Linked DNA regions of Homo sapiens: region 2 is reported to be linked to region 1. Evidence: microRNA targets listed by miRTarBase, many of them from high-throughput screens and not tested one by one. Region 1 holds a microRNA gene; the other region holds the end of a gene's coding sequence.

The links. Region 1 holds the annotated microRNA hsa-miR-423-3p (AGCUCGGUCUGAGGCCCCUCAGU, at 1,307-1,329, shown strand). A microRNA usually pairs through its seed, bases 2 to 8, with sites in the 3' UTR of a target mRNA and lowers its output. Matches are read on the target gene's strand: a 7mer-m8 pairs with bases 2 to 8, a 7mer-A1 pairs with bases 2 to 7 and ends in A, and an 8mer does both.
Region 2: miRTarBase lists YIPF5 as a target of hsa-miR-423-3p. The part of its 3' UTR that is shown has no 7-base or 8-base seed match.

Annotation. Positions count from the first base shown.
Region 1 is chr17:30,115,825-30,118,824 of GRCh38, forward strand. MIR423 (microRNA 423) reads left to right here and starts at 1,255; the gene lies at 1,255-1,348. It overlaps NSRP1 (nuclear speckle splicing regulatory protein 1), which reads left to right and starts at 992. Exons shown (of 7, transcript NM_032141.4): 1 at 992-1,039; 2 at 2,256-2,349. The coding sequence starts at 1,020. It overlaps MIR3184 (microRNA 3184), which reads right to left and starts at 1,336; the gene lies at 1,262-1,336. RefSeq lists enhancers at 503-1,702, 735-854, 875-974, 1,005-1,104 and silencers at 817-1,418, 1,355-1,424.
Region 2 is chr5:144,157,861-144,160,860 of GRCh38, forward strand. It overlaps YIPF5 (Yip1 domain family member 5), which reads right to left. Exons shown (of 6, transcript NM_030799.9): 6 at 302-2,699. The coding sequence ends at 2,537. Among named protein-coding and RNA genes, the nearest start is that of YIPF5, 11 kb to the right of the region's middle.

The DNA of each region.
Region 1 (3,000 bases):
CAGGAGAATCGCCTGAACCTGGGAGGCGGAGGTTGCAGTGAGCCAAGATTATGCCACTGCACTCCAGCCTGGGCGACAAGAGCGAGACTACGTCTCAAAAAAAAAAAAAAAAAAAAAAAAGTATCATATATGATCCTGATTCCTATACCCAATGGCCCGTGAACAGTATTATTAATAATTTTGGTCCTTGGGCCGGGCGCGGTGGCTCATGCCTGTAATCCCAGCAATTTGGGAGGCCGAGTCGGGCGGATCACCCGAGGTCGGGAGTTCGAGACCAGCCTGACCAACATGGAGAAACCCCGTCTCTACTAAAAATACAAACTTAGCCGGGCGTGGTGGCACATGCCTGTAATCCCAGCTACTCGGGAGGCTGAGGCAGGAGAATCGCTTGAACCCGGGAGGCGGAGGTTGAGGTAACCGAGTTCGCGCCTTTGCACTCTAGCCTGGGCAACAAGAGCGAAACTCCGTCTCAAAAAAAAAATTTTTTTTTTAATAATAATTTTGGTCCTATGTAAGGTATTATTAATACACAGATTTTCATTTTTCGCCTAATTATCCTGAACCAGTTAAAGTGAACACTTGGAAGGGGGTAGGGGGAATATCGATAGCCATGGCAGTGGTTTTCAAACTTTATCAGAATTACCCGCTGGTTAAAATTCAGATAACTCGCTTCACTCCAAAGTTTCTGATTCTGCAGGTTTGGGGTAGGGCCCGAGAATTTGTCATTTTAACAGTATCTCCGGTGTTGCTGATGCCGCTGGTCCCAGAACCACACACTGCGAACAACTGGCCTAGAACGTTGTCATTCCTTTCTCCTACAGATTTTGAGGCAGCCGGTGGGCTCCGAAACAAAACAGAGGTCACTGGATCCGATTCCCAGTACCATAGAAGTGACTCAAACCAGCGATTCAACCGACAAGCAGGATCCGGGCCACCCAAAGCCGCGCGAGAGTTTACGTGACGACATCGGCGTCAGCGTCACGGAGGCGTCGGCCACGTTCAGCGGACACGGGAGCAAGATGGCGATTCCGGGCAGGCAGTGAGTGATCCGGGAGTTAGGGTCAGGCTGGGGGATGAGAAACTACGGCGACTGTATCTTTGGCCGAGGAGTTTTAAATGCGCTGGAAGTGAAGGGACTGTGTCGTCAAGGGTAGAGACGGGAAAAAACGAGAAGTCCTGAGGAACATAGATTCCCCTCCCCCGTACATTTTCCCGGATGGAAGCCCGAAGTTTGAGGGAGAAACTTGTGAGGAAATAAAGGAAGTTAGGCTGAGGGGCAGAGAGCGAGACTTTTCTATTTTCCAAAAGCTCGGTCTGAGGCCCCTCAGTCTTGCTTCCTAACCCGCGCTTGAGTTTCTCCCCGCTTGGATGCTCTCAGGGGCAGTGTGAAGAGAGACAGTTCCTGGCTTCCTTAGAGGGCCTTGTTCTCCTTGGCAGAAGCTCAAGTCCTGATTCCCGCCCTTCCTTCTCGTTTTAGGAATATTGTTCTGAGAAGCCACAGAAAAAGGGTAGGCATATAGGAAATTGGGGTATACGTTGCCGCAAAAGAGACAAATACTGTACGTACTTGAAAGTTTTACCTTTGATGTGTAATCCTTACTTTTGATGCGGCCTCCCGTGATCTCCGCATCTTAAAGGCCAAAACGTGAGAAACTAAAGGAGTTGGATCTGATGGGATGGTTCTCTCAGATGCTCCGAGGCAAAGCACATGATCTTAATAAAGTGTAATGCGAACTTGCCCCATGGCTACTTGGGTTTCTCAGTTATCTTTTAAAAATTTTCGTGAGTTACACTATCCAGTCAGTTCTTAGAAACTGTGTAAGTACACAGTAGGAAAAAAAATCTAGCCATTTTCTTGACTGTTTAGACCACAAGGATAGTTGAAAGCATTTTAAAATCTTTAGTGGACATGAACTAAACTTTCCACTACACATGTTTTTTTTTTTTTTTTTTAAATGTTACTGTCACTTCGCCATCTTAAAACATTTCTGAACTTTTCATTTACTTCTCTTCTTTGATAAAAATGGTATTCGAGTTTGGCCCGTGTCCACAAATGATCACTTAGAGTAGTAATTATAGAATCTTACGGCATGTTAGAATTTTGAGATCACTGAGAAGCAAAAACAGTCTGTTACGTGTTCATAAAGCTTATGACATGTTTTGATTTGGTAGCTTCATGTGGAAGAGGTAGTAGATGTATTTGTTAACATTTAAACATAAAGGTTTAATTTCTATTTCAAAAAAAATATATGCAGGTATGGGCTTATTTTGCCAAAGAAAACACAGCAGTTGCACCCTGTTTTGCAAAAACCATCAGTGTTTGGGAATGATTCTGATGATGATGATGAGGTAAGGAAACCTATGTTTTACTCGTGCATGGTTGGAAATGTAAATTTTTTAAAAATTGAACTTGTGACTCTGATACCTTTGCCTTTGTTATTTGTCAGTACAGTGGAGTATAATTTACAGAATTGTCAAAAAGGAAGGTGTAAAGAAAGCAGCTCCACCGATTTTTTAAAGATTTTTTTCCCTCTAAAAGCTGCAAACTTTACCTTTAAACAAATACACGGTCTTTTCAGACTACTGAAATTGTCATAACAAAATTGTTGGTGTAAAGATCCCTAGGTATGAGTTATTAAGATGTCACCAATTTTCTACAAATTTTTATTAGCAAAGCAGTTTTTAATTTGTTAACCATGAGCTAAGATCACTATATAACAGTTCTTAACAACGCTACTTTTTTTTTAAATTCAGTGTCTGCCAAATGTAATTGCTCAGTTATAATCGTGGTAGTGAATAGTTACTCTTGATAGTACTACAGTAACATCTAATATCAACATTTTCTATTTTAGCAGCCAAAACTACTTCTGTGAAACCCACAGTTATATATCAGAAACAATCCCAAATGTGTGCTTTTCTTTTCTCTTTTTTTTTTTTTTTTTGAAACAGTGTCTTGCTCAGTTGCCCAGGCTGGAGTGCAATGCCGCGATCTCGGCTCAC
Region 2 (3,000 bases), not on the chromosome of region 1:
ATGATCTTGGCATGTATACATGTATGAGTAACACACTAGTGTTAAGTCAATTTGCCACTCCACTCACAAGTACAGTATTTGGAGATAAGGCGTGTTTCAGTCTGTTACCCCCACGATGAGTTTCAGTTACTCAATGACAATCACTGGATGAGCTTTTAGCTATGGTGTCTCTAGTGTTTAAAGATACCTGCATGCTTTTAGTATAAAATGGGCCTAAAGCAAGGCAGGTAATCTACCTGGTACTTAACTGAAGAAACCAATCTATTCCAATGATAGACAAAAAAAAAGCGCCACATAGTACTTTTTGAGACACAGTACAACAGTCTTTAATGTATATATAAATATGCCTACATAACAGAGTTTGATAAGAGAAGTTTTGGCTATATACAACTCTGCATGTAATCAAACTCTAGAACATCAAATGCAACTCCACTGCATAGCTGTTTTGACAGAGCAACAGTTAAGCATAAAATAGCTTTGCACCTTATTATTTTGGAGCAAAATAAAAAATAACCACCACAAAAAAAATCTCTACAATAATTTAAACTAAAAATGTTGTTGAGGATAGGGTAAACAACAAAAAAGAAAATAATTTGATCCATATGTGATATTTGGCTGAAGATTAACAGTGTTAAGTCTAACCAACAGCGAGATAATTTTAATTTCCAAAGCATCTTCTACCGTTTATTAGCAATATTTGGATATTAAGGGAAGACATTTGCCTTAACAAAAACTATACTGAAAAAGACAAATGAATTGAAAAAGACAAAAATACTATCCAAGAATTACAATAAAAAATTTGGTTAAGTTGGAAAGCCTATCAAATTACCTTCCAAATTGCTTTTTTAAAGCAATTTGGTAAGTTTGAAAACCTAGCCCAAAACAAATTAATGACAAGTGGGTTTCTCCAGACGATTAATGAAGAAAAACATACTTATGTGAATCAATAAATATGTTATTTCTCTCAACCTCTTTTTATGCTTTGAAAACTTGTTCTAAAAAAGAACCATTGATACATCATTTTGACATTTCTATTTAGTCTGAAAATCTCTTTAAAAAAAAAAAAAAGGCAGTATTTTCCTCCCTGTACCATATCTTTCTCGTAACTATAACTGAGCTTTGTCCAGAATCAGAGACAGTTTTTCTAGAAAAAGCCAATGATCAGTATACAAGATACAGTATTTTCCTACAGATTCTCTCTGGCAAGAGAACATGACAATATAAATCAAATAAATTTAATACAATAAAATAATGTAACTCAAACTGCTCATTTAATCCCCTTTTTGTCTGATTCTATATTAGCTGATTTCTATTCTTAAAGCTTAAATTAGGGGTCAAAATCAGAGCCTAGTTAAAAAAGAGACAAAGAGAACAGTAGTTTAGTAAAAGTAAATTCAATAACACAGTTAAAATTAATTGGGAAAGTTTTAATAAGCATTCAAATGTACTTTACATTGATAATTGCAATATTGAATTTTGTAAAACTTTAAATATTTTCCTTAAAAAAGGTTAGTGATTTTTTTATTATTTTTGGGAAATGTGGCGATCCAACGATTATAGCATTAATGCAACCATTCCAGGTCCCTAAGGTTGAGTTAACATTAATATGTAAGTAAGTGTTCGCATTTCATGTCTACAATAAGGTAGATTGTGAACTTCCCGTATCTCTGAATTTTAGCAAAAATTCCATGAGATAATTTACAGTAATGTCAAATTTTTGGAGTGCAAACTCATACTCTACATTTGGATCACTTTTTTGCTTTGAGTTACCTGACTTGAGAATACAAGGCAATTTTTCTTTCCTAAATCCTTGGAAAAATATTTTTGCAGTAAGTCTTGTGTCTCCTTTTTTTTTTTTTTTTGAGACAGAGTCTCACCCTGTCACCCAGGCTGGATGGAGTGCAGTGGTGTGATCTCGGCTCACTGCAAGCTCCGCCTCCTGGGTTCACACTTCTCCTGCCTCAGCCTCCTGAGTAGCTGGGACTACAGGCGCCCGCCACCACGCCCAGCTAATTTTTTTTGTAGTTTTAGTAGAGTCGGGGTTTCACCGTGTTAACCAGGATGGTCTCGATCTCCTGCCCTTGTGATCCGCCCGCCTCGGCCTCCCAAAGTGCTGGGATTACAGGCGTGAGCTACCACGCCCGGCCGTCTTGTGTCTTCTTTACTGTGACTGGGTCGTTTTTAAGAAAGGTTATCAGCTTTGTGTTTGGTTTCCCACAGTTGATAAAAATCTATCAAAAACATTATAATTTGCAAGGAAAAAGGTTTTTCAATGGCTGCAGGAACCAGAAAGAAATAGCATTTCTTATCTGTATAAACACAAACATTTAAAGCTAGTCACACCGCAGGTAAATCCAATATAGTATGCAAAAGTTCTATAAAAATGAACAAGAGATACACGTTTACTTTCATTGCTCCAACAGTCAAATGTAAATCTGCATGAGAGTTGCGCTGCAGCAGTTTGCTGGTCCAATTTAAGAGTTCAAGGTCCTTTTTGTACATCTGGCCCACTGATGTCCACATCCCAGATAAATTTTCAAAAGACGGAAATCAGGGCAAAGACTCCATATAACAAAGCGCAAGGATATGCTACTAAAAGTTGCTGTCCTTCCATGGCTAATGCAGAAATAAATATTTTGGAAGCAGAAAAACTACACCATCCAATAATCCCAGCAGTGAGAATGATTCCTACCATTCCTCTGTAAACAACAAGGAAAAAGGGGGGAGAAGAAAAAAAAGCAGATGAGATTAGTTATGTAAGAATACTACAATAACCTATTCTAAAGCATTTTAAATTTACATTTTAAATCTGCAAGTAGACATATGCAAAAATAATCAGGATTTTTTTTTTCAAATGCTAAAATGTACCTCACAGTAAATTCAATGATGGTGAATCATTTCATGGGATAAACAGCTTTTTTAGAACTATGTTTTACTTTTTAAAAATATAAGGTCTCTCATTCTTGGCACTACTGACATTTGGGCTGGATGCTATCTTTG